2 separate regions of the Homo sapiens genome follow, and region 2 is linked to region 1. A link means that fine-mapping ties the variant in region 1 to the expression of a gene that starts in the linked region. Tissue or cell type: sun-exposed skin. Region 1 holds a variant in brackets; the other region holds the start of a gene. All regions are shown on one strand. Distances are between the middles of the regions.

What was found. PIP is the estimated chance that this variant, and not a neighbour inherited with it, causes the effect.
Region 2: it holds the start of UST, and the variant in region 1 is fine-mapped to the expression of UST in sun-exposed skin (GTEx, PIP above 0.99). The same link has a PIP of 0.9 or more in unexposed skin.

What each region holds. Positions count from the first base shown.
Region 1 is chr6:148,597,178-148,599,860 of GRCh38, forward strand. No RefSeq gene overlaps it. Among named protein-coding and RNA genes, the nearest start is that of UST, 150 kb to the right of the region's middle. RefSeq lists an enhancer at 2,623-2,683. The variant T/A (reference allele first, on the strand shown) is at 1,247.
Region 2 is chr6:148,745,797-148,748,479 of GRCh38, forward strand. UST (uronyl 2-sulfotransferase) reads left to right here and starts at 1,234. Exons shown (of 8, transcript NM_005715.3): 1 at 1,234-1,881. The coding sequence starts at 1,635. RefSeq lists enhancers at 863-922, 983-1,062, 2,371-2,683 and silencers at 1,633-1,722, 2,023-2,192.

The sequences.
Region 1 (2,683 bases):
CAGTCTCCTGTCTGTTAAAAGAAAAACTTCAGCTGAATTAAATTTAAAGGAGTTTAATTGAGCAATGAACAATTCATGAGTCAGGCAGCCCCCAGAATCACAGCAGGTTTAGAGAGACTCCAGGGATGCCTCATGGTAGGAACAAATTTAGAGACAAAGAAAGGGAAGTGATGTATAAAAATCGGAAGTGATGTATAGAACAGCTGGATTGGTTACAGGTTGATGTTTGCCTTATTTGAACACAATTTGAACACTTAGCAGTCTACGAGTGATTGAAGTATGGCTGTTGGGATGGGCCAAGACTCAGCTATTGTTACAGGCACATACTCCTAAATTAGGTTTTCAGTCTTGTCTGCTTATTAAGCTAGGTGACAGTTCATCCACAAGGACTCAAATATACAAGTATGGAGTCCTTCTCAGGCCCTATTTAGTTTGCTTTAACACGCCTTAACAAAACTACTTGGAAATTCCCAGGCAAAATGCTAAGGTTTAAGAAAGAGAAATTTGGTATGGAGGGCATGCAGTGCAGGACTATGTGACTTGTTCCAATGACTTATCCTGAGTTATTGTCTCATCTGGTGAATGGGCTGGCACCATCTTGGGTTTGACAGGGTTGTAAATTAGCTGCAGCCTTAAAGTAATCTCCTAGTCAAGGAGAATTCCATAGGCACCTGGATTGTCTGAAGATTCAGTCTCCAGAACTTCTAAGCAAACATAATTAGATAAACCAGCAATGCAAGGAAGTGCCTAGTGGAAAGAAGGAGAGTAAAGGTTACTATTTCATTAGTAAAAAGTTAATACAAAGGGCCACAGAAAGAAAAGGAAAAAAAAAAGTAAAAATAGAGTACTTAATTACACTCCCATGCCCACTAACCCTCATCTAGTAATAGACAGAGTTATCACATACACACATATGTAGGGGAGATTAAAAAAACTCTTCCTTTCCTCACTTAGCTTCTATGGCTGGGATACTGGAAATTAAACTGAAAAAAGACAGATGAATAAGAGAAAAACACAGTTTATTCACACATGCAGCATGAATACATTCAAGAGAAATCTGGTGATTGGTCTCTCAAAGGGGCGATTAGAACTTGGAGCTTATAGAGCATGTTAACAAAGAATGATAAAGTTGTAGAGAAGTGACAAGGAAAAGGGGCTTAGGCTTTCAGGGGTGGGAAGGTAAATATAAGGGGAAAGACAAGTTGTTTTCCTAAGGTTTGTTATGTAGATTTCATCTCTGGGCTGA[T/A]AAGAATCTGATTACTAAGAGTTATTCTGCTCTTCCTGGTACAGGAAGGGCACCTTTCTCATGGGAAATTTTATGTCCTACTTTTAGATAGAAAGGGGAAGGTCAGAAAGCTCTTCCTGCATCTGCTGTTTTTCAAGTGTCTTCAGCTCAAAATAATCCTTATGCCAATGGCATATTTTGGGGTGGCATATTCTGATTCCCTACAATAAATACACAGTGAACTAAACTCCCACCTTTAATATTATTGCTCTCTCTCATATTGGCTCTTACTTAATATTAATAATTTCAGCTAACACTTTTGGAACACATTTTATATCCCAGGCACTGTGCTAAGCATGTCATATAATCTATGTCATTTCGTTCTTTCAACAACTCCATGAGACTCAAAGGGGTTAAGTAAGCCTTCCCATGGTCACACGAATAGTAAGTGGGAAGAGACTGAAAAACGAATTTAAGCCTGCAGATTACTTCTAGTTCTCCAAAGCCTCACTAACACTGTTGGGATAAGCTCAGCCAGGAGTTGGAGTGAAGCTATCTTTTCTATGTTTGTATTTTGCTATGCCAAACACCCTTTAAGGCTAAAAGACTCCAGTTATCCATCTTAGCTTGTTGGCCTTGAGAGGTAAGGAAGGTCTTTACACACAATGGGCACTTAAATCCATTTGAATGATGACTCTGCTGCCTTCATAACTTGTCAAGGGTTGGGACTAGAGTCCAGCATTCTGAGCCGCTGGATAAATCTGTCAGAGTGATTGCTGATGGCTTGTTTTCTTTCATTTGGTGGAATATTTATAGAAAAACTTTTAGCAGGCTCCAAAATGTAATATTCTCCAGAGATACATTTTTGGACCTTGAAACTACATCCTACAATGAAAAATAAATTGGTAGGATTTCAGATAAGGCTCCAGTATTGATTTGTAAATACCTCTCAGAGTATTCAGCTATGCTTAGTTTAATTCCGTATTATTCTTATCTAATTCTACCAAAATTTTAAATAAGCTATTAACATTTTTAAAATTGTTTAAAGTAAAAAATTTTAAATTATTTTAGCAATTTTATTGCCAAAAACCAGTTGTTGAGTTATTTCAAAACTTTCTCAGAATCCAGGAGTCAAACAGGAAATTTAGAAAACACGTAGTCCAATATTGTTTTTTGAGAACAGGACAGAGGTACAGTGAGGGGTCTGGATTTGTCTGAAGTCTCAAAGCTAGTCTTTGTCTCAGTTATAAGTAAACAAATCAAATTCAATGATGTAAGGAGATGTTTTGGGAAGTAGTTGTCCTTTTTCTGAATTTATTGCTTATTTTTGTGTCTTCAATGCCTGGCATAATGCAATTACAATACAACTGCTCAAGAAACATTTACTAAGTTAGATGATGTGTCAAAAATGTGATCTCTTTTCAGAAAAAATATTTGCTTTTATTAGTTACTGATCCA
Region 2 (2,683 bases), 150 kb after region 1:
GTTTTCAGGAGCCTAGTCTTAGAATCATAGAGGTTCTTGGCTCCTGGTTCCTTCTTAAATCCAATTGTTCATTACTGGAATATACAAATGAGTAGGGAGCCAGAAATGATAGGCACCAGAAACTGAGGTTTCCATTTCTCAATGTGGCCTGAACTAAATGAATTAAATCTCATCCTCCTATGGGACGTGAAGGAAAAGGGCTCTGGCTGGGAAGTACTGCTGTGCAGTGGTTAGTATAGTGGGTCTGAGGGTCAAATAGATTTGAGTGCAACTCCCAACCCAACTCCTACTACTAGCTTTGGGACCTCGGGTGAGTCACACAGCCCTCAGGTGCTACAGCTTCTATAAATAGTGATATAGTATTCTTACTTAAAGTGTGGCTGATCAGAGCAGCCCTTCCGTGGATCAACCACCCCATCAGAGGATCTATGTCTAGGATTGAGCCTTTTCTGCCCCAGGAGGTTCTTTCAGGTCCAGAGGCTTTCCCGTGGAGGGAAGAGAGGCAGCAATGAAATCAGCGTATAGGCGGACTGGGCTCTTTCCCCTTCATGTCTGCAGGGCAATGACCTCCTAGAGTCCGCTATGCACCCCCCACTTGCCTCTCTGGGCACTGCGAGGTGGAGCAGTTGTAGGACCAGGAAAAGCAAGAACAGAGCGTCCTCTTCGGCTACCCTACCCGGGAGTTCAGGCGCTGCGCCTGGCCCTCTGGGGCGTGTTTGACCATAACTCGCACCGCTTGCTCTTTTCCCATTTCAGCAAAGTCTTGAGCCTGTATTCTAGTACCTTTTATCAGCCTTGGGTAAGCAGCTCGCACGGGGTATATAAGGAGAATCAACTTTCTGAACTGAAAAAAATGTAAATAGTAAAGTCAGTCGTGCTTCTTCCTGCCGGTGACTGTTTACAAGAGGGAAGTCAGCGGGGCCCCCAAGAGGTCGCTGGTGGCGCAGGAACCGCATCCAGATTGTAAAGAACGGGGGAAGGAAAAAAAAAGAAAACACCCAGAAACTTTCTTCCTTGTTGCGAATAATCGCCGCCTCCCCCCCTCCGCCCCCAGCAGAAGCAGTAACGTGACACCCGAGCGAAATCCCGAGACCCGAGCGGAGAGGGAGGGGAGAGGGAGGAGAGTGCTGCGGAGCGCCGGAGGGAGAAAGGGGAGGAGAAGGAGGAAAACCCCTGTCAAGGAGGTGGAGCGAGGGGATGGTGTCCGCCTCCTGTTCCTCCCTGCCGTTTTTTAGAGAAGCCTGAACCGGGACAAAACACGCCGAGACCTACAGACACAAAGCCGGGGGGTCCACGCTGGCGCTGGAGGCGAGCCCCGGCGGCCGCAAGCGAGCCCGAGGCGCGGCGGGGCGCGGGGCGTGGGGACGCTAGCGGGCGCCGGACGGGCGCGGCGCCCCGTCACGGGCAGCGCCCCGAACCGGGGCCGGACACCTCGGCCGCTCGGGCCGCGGCGGCGGGGACCATGCCGAAGAAAGTCTCCTGAGCCCGGCAACTTCGGCCCCTCCCCGCCCCCACCCGGCTGCCCTCCGCGCGGCCCTCCCCATGTGCAGCCGGCCAGCCGGGCTCTCCTCCTCGCGGCGGATGGGTGACCTTTTCCTGGCACGGGCAGGCTGTGGGAGGCAGCGGAGCAGGCGATGAAGAAGAAGCAGCAGCATCCCGGCGGCGGCGCGGATCCCTGGCCCCATGGGGCCCCTATGGGGGGCGCCCCTCCGGGCCTGGGCAGCTGGAAGCGTCGGGTGCCCCTGCTGCCTTTCCTGCGCTTCTCCCTCCGGGACTACGGCTTCTGCATGGCCACCCTGCTGGTCTTCTGCCTGGGCTCCCTCCTCTATCAGCTCAGCGGGGGACCCCCTCGCTTCCTGCTCGACCTGCGGCAGTACTTGGGTAAGGAAGCTGGGCAGGCGCTAGGGCGGCGCCGACAGCGCAAAGTTGTGCGGCGGGGAGAGGGTCGCGGCGGGGACTTCTCGCGCTGCCACCGCGCGCCGCCGCCGCCCCGGGTCTCTCCAGGTGCTAAGCCCGTGAGCATCTGTGCCGCGGTCGGGAGCGCCTTCTTCCTCCCGCGCGTCCGACTGTCCTCACCGAGGCGGGGGCGCCGCTGGGTTGCGCTGCCGGCAGGTACCCCGGGGCGAGGCACCGCTCACCTTCCCCCCGCCCCACCTCCGCCACCCGGATCCGGACTGGGGCGGAGTGGATGGGTGTGTGGGGTGTGCCGGAGTGTGTGTATCTTCAGGCCTGGCGGCGCGGGGAGTGGCGAAGGGAAGGGAAGGTCCTCTTCGTTGCATTGTTAGTGACCGCAGTTCAGTCCCGTCCCGCGCCCCGGGGAGTGTGGGTGGGTTTAGCCCTTTGCCACCGTCCGCTCTGAGAATTCTGTCCCGCAGATCCCCCGCCTGCCCGCCGGCCCTAGTGGCTCCGCGCTGTCCCCGGGCTGGCTTGTCCCTTGGCTGCCGCTGCCCACCCCGCCGCCCGCAGCTAGCCTGGCGCGGGGAACGGGTTGCATCCAGGGGTTTGGGGATGCCCGAGGGCGCTGGTCAGCCTGGCCAGCAGTGTCGCCCCCAGTAACCCGAGGATCCTCGGCGCTGTGTGCGTCTCAAGCTCAAGTCAAAACTTGTGTGTGTGTGTGTGTGTGTGTGTGTGTGTGTGTGTGTGTGTGTGTGTGTGTGGTTTATTAGGAGAGAGGCCGCCTGTC